Regions from separate parts of the Homo sapiens genome. Here region 2 is linked to region 1. A link means that fine-mapping ties the variant in region 1 to the expression of a gene that starts in the linked region. Tissue or cell type: esophagus mucosa. Region 1 holds a variant in brackets; the other region holds the start of a gene. All regions are shown on one strand. Distances are between the middles of the regions.

Region 1 (2,910 bases):
AGGGCTTATTGTAATAATTTAAAAAGATAAAATTTCGGGAATTTTCTTCCTCTACCTAAAAAAGAAAGTCAACACTTTCTTTTAAGCAGTTAATGGGTATTTCAAAAATCTCCCAGTGAATCCACATCATTGTGAATGTTAATTAACTAACAGTCCAGGCCCCAATCCAGACAGTTAATAGCTTGTGTCTATGCTAGCTTTCCTGTTCTTACCTGAACAGTCTGTTTATTTAAGTGGCTTTAGTGGTTCTTAACCCATCGAAAGTGTTAGTTTAACAAAGAATACCAAACAATTAACCTCTGGTGGAAAAAAAAGGAAACGATTAAAACAAACAAATTTATCGCTCTGTTAGGTTCTGCAAACACCATCTTGATGAGCTAAAAACCCCTAATAAAATAGCAGTTACACTCTGCCTAAAAACATAGATCTCAGTTATCATACAATGTGGATTACCACCAAAATAGATGGGTGCAGTGGGTGGTTGGTCTGCATGAAGCAAAATGGTGGATGTGACAGACTGCTTTTCCATGGAATTGGCTGAGCATCTGATTTTGTTGTCATGAGATCACAGGGAGGAACTCTGCATGGTCCTTGTTATGCAGAGCTGGGGCAGAAGAGGAAAGTGATATCCCCAGAGGGCCTGTGAGGTCTTCAGACCGAGGCACAAGCTGGTGCCAAGAGCCGCCTGGACCACACACTGGAGAGGCGGTGGAGAGAAGGAGAGAGGAAACTCAGAGGGCAGGTCGTCCACGGCAGCCTCGGTCAGCCCGGACAACTGGCCGGACACACCAGGCTTTCCTTTTCCTGGCAGGCACATCAGGGCAGCCAGAGAGGCAGCCACCTTCCTCCAGCCAGAGACTCTGCAAACCCATCTGGACAGCAGGTCAAGGCCCCGCTCCAGAGGCACCATCACTCTCCCCATGGCTGACCTCTTCCTCGCCAGGTGACTGGAAGACAGGATGAGATAGGGCCGGCAGACTGGATTTCCCCTCGGGTGGCTGGGGGCCTCTTTGACGGAGTGCAGGTGTCCTTGCCAGCTCCCATCCAGGCCGTCCCCACCCACTTCCCTGCAGCCCTCTGAGCCTGGGCGTTCACTGCAATGACT[C/G]ATTTGCTCTGTGTGTCTGGAAGCACGTTGGTAGGGTAGGGAGGTGGGTACCACCCTAGCCTAAGGTGCACACTGCTTTATGTTCTGAAGTCCTTGCAGAATGTTCATTCTAACCTACTAGCTTTCAGGGACAATTAGGAACAATATAATATTTCCTTCTCAAAATAGCCTCCAAGTTGCAACTGTAGGAAGAAGTTTTGTCTAACCCTTAGCTGGCCCTGGCTCCTGGAAAGCTGCATAGGGAATCCTCATGATCAGAAAAATGTCAGGCTCTTAGCAGATCACTCACAATCTGCTTTTTCTCCTGGGATCTTCTGCCAGATGGATCCTGGGGTTCTCTCCGTGCCTTTCTCCACCTCCTTTCTTGGGGTTCCCAGGACCTTCCCTGTCCCCTTCCGCTCCAGGCACTGGCTCTATCTTGGAGGGTGATGGCCCATACTTGAGGCTTTAGCTCTTCCAGCTTCTAAGACAAACAACACTGTCTCTTGCTATTATTCAACACTTTTCATAGCTTAATAAACTCAATCAATATCTTGTTACTCTAATGAAGTCTCTGGCTAGTTAACACAGTATTACCAAAAAGCCTCTCCCCTACAAGTAGTGTGGAAGGAAAGGAAAGGAGAGGGTGGGGGCAGCCATGCTGCCTTTTCTCCCCTTCACAAGGTGTATGGGCATGGACCCTCATAGCAATGTCCCAGCCTCCCCAGCCAGCAGGCATGGATGTGACTATGGGTCCATCTCACAGTGAGGGTCCCTCTGACGTCTTCAGTTCAAGGACAACAGGCTCCACAGTTCCCCTGCTTTGTCCAGCAAAGAGTCCTGATGTTTGAGCTTTTTATCATAAAAGGAAAAGCTAATGCATACCAGAGAAATTTGAAACCCAGCTTGACATCCCCTGGGGCAAAAGTGCATGGTGGCAGGTTCAAAGGACAGGGCAGGAGACATGGGCCAATTACAGCGGGAAGAACTTGTTTGTTTGAAGAGGCAGGAGAGTCGCAGGAAGGGTCACCTTTCATTAGCTGTAGATACATTCCTAAGGCAGCTCCTCCAGGTACTCAGTAAGTTCTTAGAAAATTGGGGTGGGATTGAACTTTGCTAATTTAAGGGTCCATCACCAGTGGCTGTCGCCTGTCTCCATCTAAGCATGCTTATATTCCCAGCCCTTTTCATTTCCATTTGGCCCCACGTGACCCCAGTTTCTGAATACAAAGACATAGGGGCTAGATCCCTTAGGTGAGACTCTACGGAGCAACACGCAGCGTCTTATTTCCATTTGACAGATTTCAGAGGAAAGTAAATTTGGTGCAAAAATATAGAGGCACCGTGACCTAAGATTAAGAGAGAGGTGGAAAAAAAATGCCAGAATCATTTCTTATTTGTAGCAATTGGCCCTTGATGTAGAACAGTGCGTTATACTCTATAGAATTTCAATAAAGTCTAATTGGTTATGGTCAAGAATTTCTGGAGCATTTGGGGAAAATACTGATGCATCTGAAGTTCACTTTTAAGGTCTGTACTGAGTATGCTATCCACAGTTTCTTTTTTGTTTGTTTAATAGATGTTTATTATACATTTTACAACACATTTCAAGTCAAAGAGACAGCTAGGTTTCTGCTGAAGACTGAATTTCAGCAGCAAATTTTGAAATCTGTGATGTGTGCATATTAAACCATACAGACCTTCACATCAGAGGATGAGATGATTAAATTCTGCCTCTGTTTCTGAGATACTGCAGCATGAGGGACACAGTTTCTATAACAGTGACAGCCATGGGTATAAAAGTGGGTATAAAAAGCACGCCTCAA
Region 2 (2,910 bases), 370 kb after region 1:
TCACTGTATCTGAGTTCCAGAGCTGAGATACTGCACTTTTCTCTGCTTTTCTGGAACCTGAGTACACATTTAGGATAAGGACTGCTCCCTTGAATCCACACAACTTCCAGGCTCTGTGCTCTCTTCTGAGATTTTGATAAGCTCCTTTACCACCATCCTCCCACTCTTGTCACGAGTGTGCCCTATTCCTGTGACAACATGCCCTTTGACTTTGAATCTTTGCCTCAATTCAATGTAGGGACCTAGAAAAAGGCAAGCCCTGGAGATTTCTCCTGTCCCTGCTCAGGTCCTGGGAGCGGTAGGGATTGACCTCCACTCAGGATGGTTTTATCTGGCCGGATTTCCCCAGGTGTTTCCTCGTTCGGCTCACCCTTTCATACCCCTTCTTTTCAGTGTGTGTATTCTTTGCATCAAAAAGCATTAATGAGAATTCTTGGTGTTGTGTCTACTTGGTCTCTGCCCCCTGAAGGGCTTTGGGAGGGTGGAGATGAGGCTGGACACCATTCTCCACGGCAAGCTGCTATTTCACTGAGTTTTTGAAGTTTACGGTACAAGGTTGTACTCAATTTCTCGTCTGAGAAATAATTTGCTCCATTATTTGAAGGCGGTGCGGAGGGCTGGCTTTTACTATGCTTTTGCGCATTTCATTAGTAATGGTGGGGGAGAGGTTTTGTGATCCTGATTATAATTTTTACCTGGATGTCCTCTCCACGCCTTTGACAGCATTAAACCTGGCGTTCCAATAGGAGCTGCAGGGTCTAAAATGTGCAAATAAACCTCAACAGTTACTAAAGTCGAAGAAAGAAGAGCAATGAAAGCCAACACTCATAGCGACTTACGGATAACTGTTAATAGCATCCACACTGCATTTTACATTTACAACGCACCCGCGCCTTAGTTCATACTCATTAAGTCTCCGAAGGGCGCGTCTGCCTAAGTCTTGGGTGCCCAGAATCTAAGTCTGCACTTGGCCCAGAATAGATGCCCAGTAAAGTTCTGAACGAACGACTGTTATACCCAGTTTACAGATGGGAAAACTGAAGACCACCATCATTAAGGGCCTTGCCCAAGGCCGCAGAGCTGACAGTGGATGAAAATGGGGCCAGCAGGAAAGCGGGAAGACGGCCTGGAGGACCACAGGCTAAGTGCTGGGGCCCGGAGCAGGCTCGCCAAGCGGCCGGGCCCCGCGACGGAGCGCTCGGACTCCGACCGGCTCCCACAGCTGCGCCCACCCAGGCCTCCCGCGGTGGCGCAGGCGCGGAATGCGGGGGGCGGGGGGGGGGAGGGGGCAGGCGGAAGGCAATGCGCAGGCGCGGCGTTTCCGTTGCTAGGGCCGCGTCGCGCCCACCTGAGTGGCCGAAGTGAGGTTCGCGAGTCTCTGGGTCGCGACGGGAAGGAGTGAAACACCTCTCTGCGCCTGCGCGCTCCGTGCCTGCGAAGCAAACCCGGCCTCACCTTTTCCTGCCCGAAGCAGAAGATTCTCGCAGTCCTGGTTTCTCCCTCCAGAAGACCCCCCACCCAAATCCTCTGTAGCTCCTGGTAGTGCCCTGACCCCTGCTGCCACCGTCCTTCAGAGAGCAACGGAAGAGCTTCCCGGAGGGCGAGGAAAAGAGGGAAAGTAGCCAGCAATGTCGAACGCGTAAGTGATGGGCTCCCAGCCACAGCCATGGAGTGGGCTTCCCCAAGCCAGAAGGTGGCTTGCTTTCTGCTTCTCTTATTTTCTTTTTTCTTTTCTTTTCTCCTCCCCTCTCAACTTCCCTCCTCTCCCCCACTTTTTTTCCTTTTAGGAAATTCAAATATGCCTCGGGATAGAGTATCTGCTTCTTGTGAGCAAGGAAAATCATACACTTAGATCTCCCCCTCCCCTACGCGTCCCACCACCCCATGGGGATGAGCTCCCAGTCTTCCGTATACCTGCCAAGCCCTTAGGGGCTATTGCTGAGAAGCACTATGCCATTTTGTCTGCTTTTTTTGTTAATCTTTCACGGTAACAAATACGGTGCTTTGTGGAAACACCTAGGTCCTGAAATTTAAGTCTAGAAAGATCTTGGGAAAGCATTATTGACATTTGCTTTTCACAGACTCGAGTGGCATTGGTACTGAAAGAAGTGTGTGCCTAGCACTGTGTCGTTTACACAGCACTTGCACAAAGTTACCTCATTTGGTCTTCGTAAGAATAATTTCCAACAGGTATTACAGCGCTGACCCTGTAGACACTGTTCTAACCGCTTCACAGCAACCCTGTAACGTAGGGGCTGTTAATATTGTTATTTCCATTTTACAGATGAGGGAACTTGGGGATGAAGAGGTGAAGTAGTTCACACAGCAAGTGAACAGTGCCAAGCCGGGCACTGTAGCTCCAGCCTGCACTGTTGCTATTACGTGCCCTGTATTCTAGGCAAGGAAATAAGAGCAGAGAGGTTAAAGGCTTGCCAGGGTTTGGAAATGGGGAAGATCAAGAGTTCTGTTTAAGACGTATTGAGTTGGAAGTGCCCATTGGACATCACGTGGAGATGAAATAGGCAATTAAAATATTCAGATCTTGGGTTCAGGAGCGAGACCCATGTCTGAAATATAAACTTGCTCACTGTCAGCCTGTGATGGTCTTTGTGAGACATAGAATGAATATTAATAAAGAGGTGTAAGGACTGATCCTGGGATCATCCACAGTAAGGCTGGGGGAAGAGGAGACCTGGCAAAGGAATCAAAGACATGATCCATGAGGAAGAAGCGAGTGGAAGAAATAATAGTGTTTCCAGGAGAAGTAACTTCTTTCTCCTCCATCAAGTGCTCCTGAGACAAGTTGGGGTAGAACTGAGAACTGACTGTTGATTTGGCAGTGTGGAGTTCACCAGTGACCTTGACAGGAGCTGATTCAGTGGTATGATGAGATAGAAAGACTTACTCAAG

Which allele goes with the higher level. Positions count from the first base shown, and alleles are read on the strand shown. Sizes are in standard deviations (SD) of each study's normalised expression.
With allele G in place of C in region 1, the expression in esophagus mucosa of the gene that starts at base 1,420 in region 2 is lower (moderate effect, 0.51 SD a copy in GTEx).

Evidence for each region. PIP is the estimated chance that this variant, and not a neighbour inherited with it, causes the effect.
Region 2: it holds the start of DRC11, and the variant in region 1 is the best candidate, but not a certain one, in a credible set for the expression of DRC11 in esophagus mucosa (GTEx, PIP 0.53).

Annotation. Positions count from the first base shown.
Region 1 is chr2:236,874,163-236,877,072 of GRCh38, reverse strand. No RefSeq gene overlaps it. Among named protein-coding and RNA genes, the nearest start is that of COPS8-DT, 210 kb to the left of the region's middle. The variant C/G (reference allele first, on the strand shown) is at 1,106.
Region 2 is chr2:236,505,986-236,508,895 of GRCh38, reverse strand. DRC11 (dynein regulatory complex subunit 11) reads left to right here and starts at 1,420. Exons shown (of 19, transcript NM_024726.5): 1 at 1,420-1,639. The coding sequence starts at 1,629. RefSeq lists a silencer at 1,245-1,294.